Linked DNA regions of Homo sapiens. The protein of the gene in region 1 purifies or fractionates together with the protein of each later gene. This does not show direct contact. Each region holds a gene or a part of one and is shown in the gene's direction. Other genes may lie near its edges.

What was found.
Region 2: the proteins of CCDC80 (region 1) and PPP2R3A purify together in Homo sapiens (co-immunoprecipitation; one large-scale study listed by IntAct). This does not show direct contact.
Region 3: the proteins of CCDC80 (region 1) and ISX purify together in Homo sapiens (co-immunoprecipitation; one large-scale study listed by IntAct). This does not show direct contact.

Annotation. Positions count from the first base shown.
Region 1 is NC_000003.12:112,596,159-112,599,737, reverse strand, and holds the end of CCDC80 (coiled-coil domain-containing protein 80 precursor), read left to right. Parts: 3' UTR 1-2,941; downstream 2,942-3,579. UniProt on the Homo sapiens protein: Promotes cell adhesion and matrix assembly.
Region 2 is NC_000003.12:135,968,667-135,972,321, forward strand, and holds part of PPP2R3A (serine/threonine-protein phosphatase 2A regulatory subunit B'' subunit alpha), read left to right. Parts: intron 1-3,655. UniProt on the Homo sapiens protein: The B regulatory subunit might modulate substrate selectivity and catalytic activity, and might also direct the localization of the catalytic enzyme to a particular subcellular compartment.
Region 3 is NC_000022.11:35,069,098-35,072,752, forward strand, and holds part of ISX (intestine-specific homeobox), read left to right. Parts: intron 1-3,655. UniProt on the Homo sapiens protein: Transcription factor that regulates gene expression in intestine. May participate in vitamin A metabolism most likely by regulating BCO1 expression in the intestine.

The DNA of each region.
Region 1 (3,579 bases):
CATTTTCTGTAATATAATTAACAATGAAGCTCATACTTTCTCAACTTCTAGAAGCCTGGAGGATGGAAGCAGCCCGAGAGTAGGGTGAATGATGGCCTCAGTGGGCCCTTCTTAATGTGTCTCAGTACTGAATGTGTGGAGATTGTAGAAAAATAGAAGGCCCTTGGAAAAAACCTCTGTTCGTTTCTCTGTTCGTTTCGCTCCCTGATCTCCCTGCCGGATTGCTTTTCTTTCCTTTCTCTTCCTTGGCTGTCCTTTACCTCATGGTGTGGGGTGTGCAGATAGCAGGTTGTGGCTTGGTGAGTGCTCTTCACTTCAGGTCAAGGTGAGGCACAGTTAACATGCTAACTACTTTCCTCAGTTCTCTCTGAGTTGTGTAAAGCTCCCGATGCCAGACTTCCTCTTAATTTTGCACATTATTAAAGTCCAAAGAGTTAAGATTTGGTGATGAGGGGCAAAGGGCCAGCTGTCACAGAAATCAATGAAATGATACACAGAAATGGGTATCATGAAAAGGCCACTGGACTTGGGAAAACTGGGTGCCTGTCCTTGCCCTGCCATGTACTTACCTGTGTGACTGGAGGTGAGATGTTTTACCTATGGGCCTCAGTTTCTCATTACAAAATGACAGAGAAGACTAGATACCTAAGTTCCTAAGTTTGTGACATTTGTGAATTTTTCTTGGCCCTCTGTGAGTAGAGTGCTAAATTTAGAGGCTTCCTGTGGTTGAACTGATGTCCAATTCTCAGGGAACCCAGACTTCTCAGTTCAGAACCCAGTTCCAGATTTTTGTGGGAATAGGGAAAGGTATTAAATAACTCCATTGAATTCTTTCCTGCATAATGCCCTGCTGTGGCTGAGACTCAATGAGGTCATCACCTCCAACACACAGAACCCCTCATCATCTCCTTACAGCCAGACTGGAGCTTCCAAGGACATCAGGTTGGCAAGGATTGTGAGTACCCTAAACATCTAAAGAGGCCCTCTAATAAGGGACATATTTGTTCTTCAACAGTTTCCTAACTTGAGACCACAAATGCGTAATCTCTCTAATATCCTAAAGCTTGGACAAACTGGGCAGCCCCTGAGCAGACCGCACAGAGCTTAAATGTCAGTGCTTTCCTTCCAGAAAGAAAAAGAATGGTCCTACACCTCCCAATCCATGGGCTGATACATATGCCAAGGGAGCCGGATGAAGAAGTGGGTGATTTTAAATAGCTAAGACTGCCCATGGGCAAACGTTCTTTGGCTTTTCTCCTCTGCAATAAGTATACCTTCCTCTCTCCTGGTCCTTTTCTCCTTTCCCAGGCCCCTCTATCAATAATAATTCTGGCTCTCAGATGACTACAGTTGATTAGGTGGAACTGATAGGATAAAGGTGACACCCTTCCCAAGGCTATCTATAATGCAAAAAGATATCCAAGAAAAAGAGAGGTAGGGAACACCTTGGGAAACCATTTCTGGAAGACAGCCAGTCCCTGCTGTAGACAAGCCTCATTTTCCTTCCCCCAAATGTTAAAGAGTAAATTCCTCCTGTAGCCTTAGCTCTCTTTTCTATCTTTGGCTTGCTTTTTATGAACTATCTTTAGAGTGCCAAATTAGAACAGGGTAGGCAGAGGCAGGAATATGCCCAAATTTGGGAAGACCTGGTTGGGAATAGTCGAAAGCCTTGATATGTGCAAAGAAAGAACCATTTGATCAACCCAGTTCTTAATACAGGATACTAACTTAAAATTTAGACTCAAGTTATACGATAATTCAAACATTTATTGTATTTATACTATTCTATATGTACTTTTCCAGGAACCAGGAATACAAAACTGACATTTCTCTGTACAGAGGCTCAGACTAGTAGAGAACAGTTAGGTACGCCGTTAATTATAAACTAATATGTATCATCAATTATGGGTTTTTATGGGGGTTTGGCAGGTGGAAGGGACCAGGGAGAGATGATGAGTGATGATGGTTATGTAGTCTTTAGGAGGATGCAATTATAACATTGCTCTTCCTTTCACGCACCACATGATTTAGCAAGTACTTCATATTGGCTCCACCATTAACATGGTCAATGGCTTCTGGATACTCACAGTTCAGGCACAGTTTCTCCTGAAGATTTTTTACCTCTCCCATCTTTAAGAAATTGTCTGGATGTCCATGAAAGATGCTGACACTTGTATTAATTCATTAAAAAACACCACCCCCTCCCTGAAATAAACTAAAAAGTAATGAATTCATAGAAAAAAATTTCACCAAGATTGAAACTAGAGAATATACCTAGACTTGCACTTTGAGCTTTGAGAAATGTGTACCTATTCACCATTCCAACGTGAAGAAGCTCTGCAGTAGGAAAAATAATTAACACACTTATAGTCTACTGCCCATGTAAGGATCAGCTCCGGCTAAGAGGCCAAAGATGGGTGACATCGTTATGCTCTGCCTTTATTTTTTCTTTCTTACCCACTTAGCTTCCTAATTGGAGGAAGGAGGCGTGGTAAAGGTATATGAAGACTATGGTTTAATTAGACCAGAAAACACTGTCATAATCTCTGGGGTCATCAGAATGTCCAGTTTTGTCTTTGGGCCAAGATAAGGGCAGTGGGATTTATGATGTGTTGTTTATAGTCTGAAACTACTCTGGTGATCACCAGGGTCAGTTTCTTTAATGATGGTTTCCAACTGGCCTAATACATTAAGTAAGACTGGCTGATAACATGACCAGACAGACATAAAGACCCTGTTGGGAATGACATTGAACTCTCAAAGTCAAGATTTCTTACACAAATCTATCAGCTGGAGAAAATGAAGGCAGTGTGGTATATGTGTGCAAATAAGGACATTATGAAGCTTAAATATGGAATGTCTCTTGGACCCCCGATGTCATCTGTATTCTCTTTTTCTTCTTGTACTATATCCTTTGCCTGTAAATAAAAGGTTTATTTGATTATGCTGTGTGGAGTCTGGTTTTGCAGGGCAGAATATATATATTAACATATATACAAAATATTAAATCTAAAATGTTAAAATAGTTTATATTGTACGTTAAACGTATAAGACATAAATATAAAACATACAAAATATTATATAGTATTTATAAGTATAAAATATAAAAAATTCTAATTACCAATTTCACAGCTTTAGAGAAAAGTTGTGTGCTGCTTTCAAGGAACTTCACTTAACCAGATTTCTCACCAAATTAGGGGGCTTAATCTAAAACAAGAGAAGAAACTAAAATTCAACTGATACTCCCTCCTCACAAACAGGAGACAGTAGTAATTGTATCTGTGTGGAACTGGCTCTCAAAGCAGGAGTTTCAAGCAATGTAGAGGAAAAGCACACACCCACAAAATTCCCTCATTGCAATTTTCTATGGCTCCTGCCTTCCTTCCACATCCTTGAAGTAGCTTCCAGCCCTTTAGAATAAGTTAAAGATGGCATTCAAACATTGGTCAGGAAAAGAGGGATTAGGTAAGGAAGATTCTATCTATGCTATTTTTTTCTGGCAAATATTAGGCCCAATTGGAATGTTAAACTCTGTTTAAATATGAGTACACAGGAACCTTAAATAAAGGGCCTATATAA
Region 2 (3,655 bases), about 23 Mb from region 1:
TTTTTGGTGGGTTCTGCTCCCTCCCCCAGCTACCATTTTCCCTGTCTTCCAAAGGAATAACCACTGATACTAGTTTTGTATATCATTGTAGACATTTTTTGTGGGCATTCAAGGAAATGCATATCTTTCCTCTTACTGTTTTACACAAATGGTAGCATACTGTACACTCTGTTTTCTTAAAAATGTCTTGGGAATCTTTCCACTTCAGTATATAGTTTCCTTATTTTTTTGAATGACTGTACAGTATTTCACTGTATGGATATACCATAGATTATTTAACCATTCCCCCACTGACAGACATTTAGATTGTTTCCAGTAATTTACCGTAAACAGTGCTACGAATATGCTGTTTCATATGTGAATAAATATATTTATAGGGTAAATTCCTAGAAATGGAATTGTTGGGTGAAATAAACACACAAACACATATATTTACATAAGTATATATTTATGTAATGCGTGTATATGTGTATATATTTGTAATTATTTGTGATTATAAAATATTCTGGTCATATTAGAATGCTTTGGAAGGAAACAAGATTGAGTGTGGGAGACAGCTGCCCCTAATTAAGGTTACTGTGGATAACATAGGAGAGAAAAGGTGGTGGCTGAGAGAAAAGAATGGTCGTATTGGAGATGGAGAGAAGTACATATATTCATGAGATATATTTAGGAGGCGTAATTGATAGGATTTGGTGGTTGATATGGTACAAGGGTTGAGAGGGAGAAATGAGATCCTAAGATGACTCCCAGGGTTCTAGCTTGCCCAACCAGTGAATGGTGGTGGTGTTACCTGAAGTAAAGAACATTTAAGGATAAATAGTTTTGAGATGAGTTTAAATCACAGTTTACATTGGGACTGCTGAGATTTTCAAGTGAGAGGTCACATAAGCATTTGACAATTCTAATTCAGAGCCAAGAGCAGAGGGCTAAACTGGAGGCACGAATTTTTAGGTGTAAATTAAAGGCTGTGGATGAAATTATCTAGGGCAGTGGTTGCAAAGCAGTAGCCTACAGCTGAATCTGACTCACAGATGTTTTGCCCATACAGTGGTTTTGTTATTGTTTAATTTTGAATTAGTTGCCAATATTTTAAAATCTGAAGATTTCTCATGAAAAATCCAGATTTGGGGTTTCTCTTTAAAAATGAGAAAATGTAGCACTACTGAGTTGGTTTTCCAATATGGCAGCAATAATTGGAGCTAAGTCACAGATGATCGCAGCTCTTCTATTTCACTACAGAGCCCACCACTCCCTAAAATTATGCCTGGCCCACTTTGCTCATTTATTTCTCTGACTGTAGGCTTTTGAGCATGTGATCCCTGGTCTGGGAAGAGAGCATAGAACAGTGTTCTCATCTTGGTTGCACATTGGAATCACTGAATGATTAAAAAATGCTAATGCTGTGGTCCACCTAAGAAATTTCTTTTTCTGTTTACTTGATCTGATTTGCTGCCTTGGACGAATCTGAGGTGATTCCACTTAGCTGTGGAAGTTGAGAACCACTGACAGAGATTAAGAAAAAAGGGCTCAGGCCCAGCATTTTGAAGTTTAGTAGAGGAGGATAGCCCAGGAAGAGAATGAGAAGTGGCCACAGAGGTACAGTGGAATGACGCCTTGCTCAGAATTAAAGTGTGCAAACTTAACTGAATGCGCTCTACCATGTTTTTTATTAAATGAGAGAGAGAAAAGTTTTATTTACTTGTATACAGGTGTGCGATATTTAACGGGCCATTTAAAGGATTTTCAAGAGTAATTTAAACAATATTTGGTTTTTGTCTTAGCTGTTTCCTTCACAATCTAATTCTAGTTTAAGATGCATCATAAAAGGTGAGAGAAGAATGTTTCAAATAGAGAGGTGTCATCAAGTAAAGATGTGGAACAAAAATGATCTGTTGAATTTAGCAAGATGGAGTCTTTGACCTCAGCAAGAACCATTTTAGATTGGAAGAGGCAGAAACCAAAATGAAGTGGGTAAAAAGTAAGGAAATGGGAGTGGCAAGTGTTGGAAATTCCTTTGAGAAGCTTGCCCAAAAAGAGGAAGTGGTGAGGGAGGATGAGGTGTCTTACATGCCTACAATGTAGGTGTTAGTCTGTTGGTTACTCAAACATTTCTCCTAACTTTTTAGGGATGTAGGTCAATGGTGTCTGATTACCCCTCTCCCACGTTCTTAGGGGTCTTGTTTTGGAGACTACTTTTTACTGAGAAGAAATTTTGCCAGGACTGTTGAAGGGGCTGACTCAGATGTTGGTGATTAGGCCACAAGTTTCTTTCTCAACTGGAAAGCTGTAGAGCTCCTAAAGGCCAGTGGTGATCTGGGCTCCAGTGACCCTGACATCATCCTCCCATTGAGCTGATGAACAAAGACTATATTGTTGGTATGCTGAAAATGGAATACTTGGCTATGTTAGGGAATGTGTATCTAACTGTGAGATTCCCAGGAATAGTTTTTGCAGCTGTATTTTTTCCAATTAACTTGATATTATAGCTTAATTTTCCAGTTGCATGCATGTAAAAACTCTCATACTTTGAAGTATTTATCATTGATGGTACCTGAGGGATATGGATGTAAGTTGGAGATGTAGGCCCTCATTGAGCTCAGAAAGAAGAAAGCACTGAGCAAACTGGTTTCCAAAAAGTTGTGTGAAGGCTTCTACCTCGAAGACTTGGTGTTAGAGTGACTATTTAGGATGGGTTGTAATGCAAATGGTCACAACCAGTTTGTCTTTTATCCATTTCTGCCACATTGGCAACCTTAACCTAGCAGAGAGGCTTTTAAGGTCAATTTTGTGCTTCATATTTCTAAGAGTTGTAGCCTGCCAACAGAACAGAAAATATAAGGGGTGGAAAATGCCAAGAATTATTGGTTAAGAATGGTTTTGATTAATTGAAGGCATAAACCTCATTGCTATACTCTTGAAAACAGGAATATCATCTTGTGAGGGACCAGACTTCATAGCTGTCATTGGTTTATCAGTTAGGTGGATGATGGTTAACTTCTGTATAAAGGATGACTTTGTGACATGAAAGCAGACCTTGGTCCAAGATGGTTTGTAATGTGAGTCCATTATAAGAAAATATCTTATTTAGAAACTTGTGTATGCTTGGACAGCTGTGGGAATTCCATCATCACAAATATGGTTAGGTACTATGCCTGGCTGGCAGTATATAGAGGCAAAAGTCCATTACCAAGGTGGTCCAGAGCTCCTTTGGTTTGTGGAGGAAACAGGATAGCTGAGTGGGGAGAGGACTTGGAGTCAGTTCCTGAGTATAGTTCCTGGATTTGTCAAGGGTGAACTGTGTGATTTTTTTTAATTGAGGTAAAATTAACCATTTTAAAGTGTACAAATCAGTTACTTCAGTATGTACATTCACAATGTTGTGCAGCCATCACCGCTAATTCTGGAACATTTTCATCACCCCAAAAGGAAACCCTGTACCCATTAAGCAGTCACTCGCCATTCCCCTTTACCCCTACCGTCTGGCACCCGCCAATTTGCTTTCTGTCTATATGGATTTGCCTGTTCTGAAGATTTCATATAAATGGAATCATACAATATGTAACCTTTTGTGCCTGGCTTCTTTCATTCAGCACAATGTATACGAGGTTCACTCAGGTTGTAGCATGTATCAGTACTTCATTCTTTCTTTGGC
Region 3 (3,655 bases), on another chromosome or scaffold:
AGCTCAATAGTCCTGTAATTACTTTTATACTAACCTTGTATTTATGATGAAAGACACTGTTATCTGTGTATGATCATGATATAAGGTATTATTTTAAAATACATTTATTATTTGAGTCAAACACAAAAGTCTATTTGGGAAAATGCTAAACAAATAATACAGATGGGATATGAACTTGCCAGAAACTATATAAAAGAAACCTGCAGAAATTGCAAATGAGCTGGAGTCTCTGAAACACACTGGGTGAGAAGGGCAGGGTTTCAGGAAACCTACCCTCTAAGCCCAGATCTGGCCCCAGTGCACGGGAGGACCTCAAGCCAGTCACTTCCCTCTCTGGCCTCAATCTCCCCACCTGTAACATGAAAGAGCAGGGCTAGAATATTCATAAGGTCTCTCCCAGCTCTGACATGCCATGACCAACTTAACAACAAATTAGTTGCTGAAAAACCTTGCAGGATTCCCTTGTGGTGATTTTCCACTGTAGAATCTTTCTCCCTGGGGAAAGGATGGTCATGATCCCAGGCAGGGCAGGAGCAGAGAGACTGGAAGGCCTCTCCCTACCCTCACAGGAGCCCTCATGCCCAGGCCTGTGCTTACTGCTGCTGGCTGATGCTTCTCTACTTCCCTGTTTTACGTCCCTCCTTTTGTGCAGGACCCCTCAGCAGAGAGCAACAGGAGCAGAAACAGCAACACCCTCTCCTGCCCCAAGAATAATGATAGAGGAATAAGTTCCTCTTTGTCTCCACTTAACATTTAAAAGGCTTCCTAGACTGGCTCACAGACAACCCTTGCCATCTCACCTAGGGATCTTATTAAAATGCAGCCTGTCAGGCCCAGCAACCAAGACTCTGACTCTAAGTGAAAAGGCCCAGGAATCTGCATTCTAACAAGCTCTCCCAAATGATTCTGATGTTGGTGGCCCAAGGAAGTGGTCCTTAGAGGAAGCTGAGACTCAATAAGGTGAAGTGGTTTCTTCCAAGCTACAGAGCCAGTACATGCAAGAGATGGGGCCAGGCTAGTTATCTGGGCTCCAAGGCTAGTGTAGTGCTCTACTGTCCTCATTTCTCATGGTAGGGACCAAGGTCCCCCCTGACATCTTCCCATTCCTGCAGGGACCTTCATGATCTATAGGTTGGACCCTCCCAGGTCTTAAAAGTCAATGGGAAAATCCAAGAGGACTTCTTTATCTGAAAAGATTCTACACCCAGCCTCCTGCTCTCTCCTCCAAGGAGAGGGAAGCCCTCCAAAACTCAGGACCCTCCAAAGTTAAGGGAGACCCAGTCAGGAGGAAGCCTCTTTATACTGAAAGCTCAGATCCTGGGAAGAGAGAGAGGGAGACCATCTTTGCATCTCTACCACTGATAATCCTTTGTGGGGAAATCATAGGCCCCAGGCGAAAGGTGATAGAAAATTGACAAGGAAGACAGACCACCCCAGTGGGTAAACCAGTATGGACTGCCTGGCCTGTGGGGAACCCAGGTATCTTCCCTTGCCTGCTCACCATCTATTCATTCAGTCAGTGACTAATCACTGAGTGCTTACTCTGGGCCAGGCTGGGGGCTGGGGAGGTGAAGGTGAATAAAACAAGATGCAGTGACTACTCACCTGGAGGGGGATGGAAGTCCCTGGCAGTGCCACCTTGGGGCAGTGCTGCCTTCTGCCCATCTTGTCTGATGGAGCTGGCCAGGGGCATGGTAGAATTCTTGGCATTTGAGAAGCATCCTGTAGCAAGGGACAGCAATGTTTTTCTGCAAAGGAACAGATGGTAATTTTAAGCTTTGATGGTCAGATGGTCTCTGTCACAATTACGCAACTCTTCTATCACAGCTGAAACTCATCTGTAGACAATGTGTAAATAAATGGGTAGGCTTATGTTCCAATAAAACTTTATATACAAAAACAGGGGTCAGGCCAGATTTGGCCCTCATGCTGCAGTTCATCAAGGACATGACCCTGACACATTAGTGTGGCACTCAAAGTCCTTCCCAGACTGGCCCTGTTCATCCCAGGCTCACCTCCCATCACACCCTCCCCGGCCCTGTCTACCTTCGAGGTGCAGGCAGCTCCTCTCCAAATTCCAAACCTTTCTTGCCCTTTAAATGCTTTGGTGTCTTTGCCATTTAGAAACCACTGCTCCTCCTGCCACCTCTTCCTCTTCTTTCCCCTCTTCCTCCCTGTATTAATTTTCTATGGCTGTTGTAACAAATTACCACAACCTGAGTGGCTTAAAACACAGAAATGTATTCTCCTACCATTCAGAAAGCCAGAAGTCTGAAATCCAGGTATTGGCAGAGATAGCTCCTTCTGGAGGCTCCAAGGGAAAATCTGATCCATGCCTCTCTCGTAGTTTCTGGTGGTTCCAGCAACCCTTATTCTTCTTTGACTTGTAGACGCATCACTCCACTTTGCCTCCATCTTCTCACAGCCTTGCCGTGTGTGTTTGTGTGTAATGTCCCTTTCTCTTATAAGGACACCTGTCATTGGATTTAGGGCCCACCCTAAATCAGCAATGATCTTATGCCCAGAGCCTTAATTATATCTACAAAGACTATTTGGAGCAAAATTCCTGGCAAAGACAGATCAACAACTGTCAGCTCCCAGTCGGAGAGAAAGGGCCTCTTCAGTGCTATCTCAGGAGACTGGGAGAAGCAGCAGAAAGGACCCCACAAGAAAGGGAGAGGTACCCTGGGTCAGGCGCCTCTGGAGAGAGGGTCCTTTTCCTTCCCTGTTCCTCACTTCTTTCTCCTCTCCTCCTCCCTCACTTCTCCCTCCTTTCCGTAGCCCTCCTCCTCCCCTGAACTACCTGAAATCAAAGACAGCTGCTCTGCTATGGGAACTGGGAGAGGCAGCCCTGGTTTGAGGCTGTGACTAAGGCCTGTGTGTATCTCATCACCTGGTGATTAACAGCTCTGGCTCTTACCCAGGTAGACCCAGGAGCTCCCATCAGAGCAGACGAGAACAGGGCAAAAGGATGTGGAGTTAAAAACAGGCACTTCCTCAAGAGAAGTGTGCTTTGGTCTTCCTCCAATGGACTCCATCTCTTAGTTCCTGGCACCAGAGCTATGGGGACCTTCCTACAGGGATACCTGGAGACTGGTTCTAGAATTGAGAACCTGGCTCAGTCTCAGGCCCTGTGGGAGCACAAGAAAGTACAAGGCATGGCCCCTACCTGCAAAAAAGAGCACGGTATTAGTGTGGGGTCCCCCAAAAAAGCAGACCCTAAAGAAAGGATCTGAGCACAAGTAGTTGATATGGGACATGCAAGGAAGTAGTGGAATAATACAAGGAAGGGGAGGCAATGAATAAAGCATGTGTTATTAAACCAGTGGCCCCTATGAGTAACTGAAGCTCAAATCCTTTGGGAAATGGAGCAAACATACTCCCTAGAATTATCCAAAGATTTGATCCCTAAAGACAAACCCTGGCAGTAAGAAGTAGATATGGAGCATGGAAAGGTCTGGGTGATACAAGCCAGCCACTGACAACATCAACTACAATCATAGGGCCCAGAATGTCAGAGCTAGGAGAAATCCAAATGGGCAGAGGAGGAGGCTTAAAACATTGGCTATAATTTAAGTTTGATTTATCCACTGTATTATTTATCCAGACAGGCAACAAATAGCCACTGAATATCTACTGCGTGCCAGGCATACCT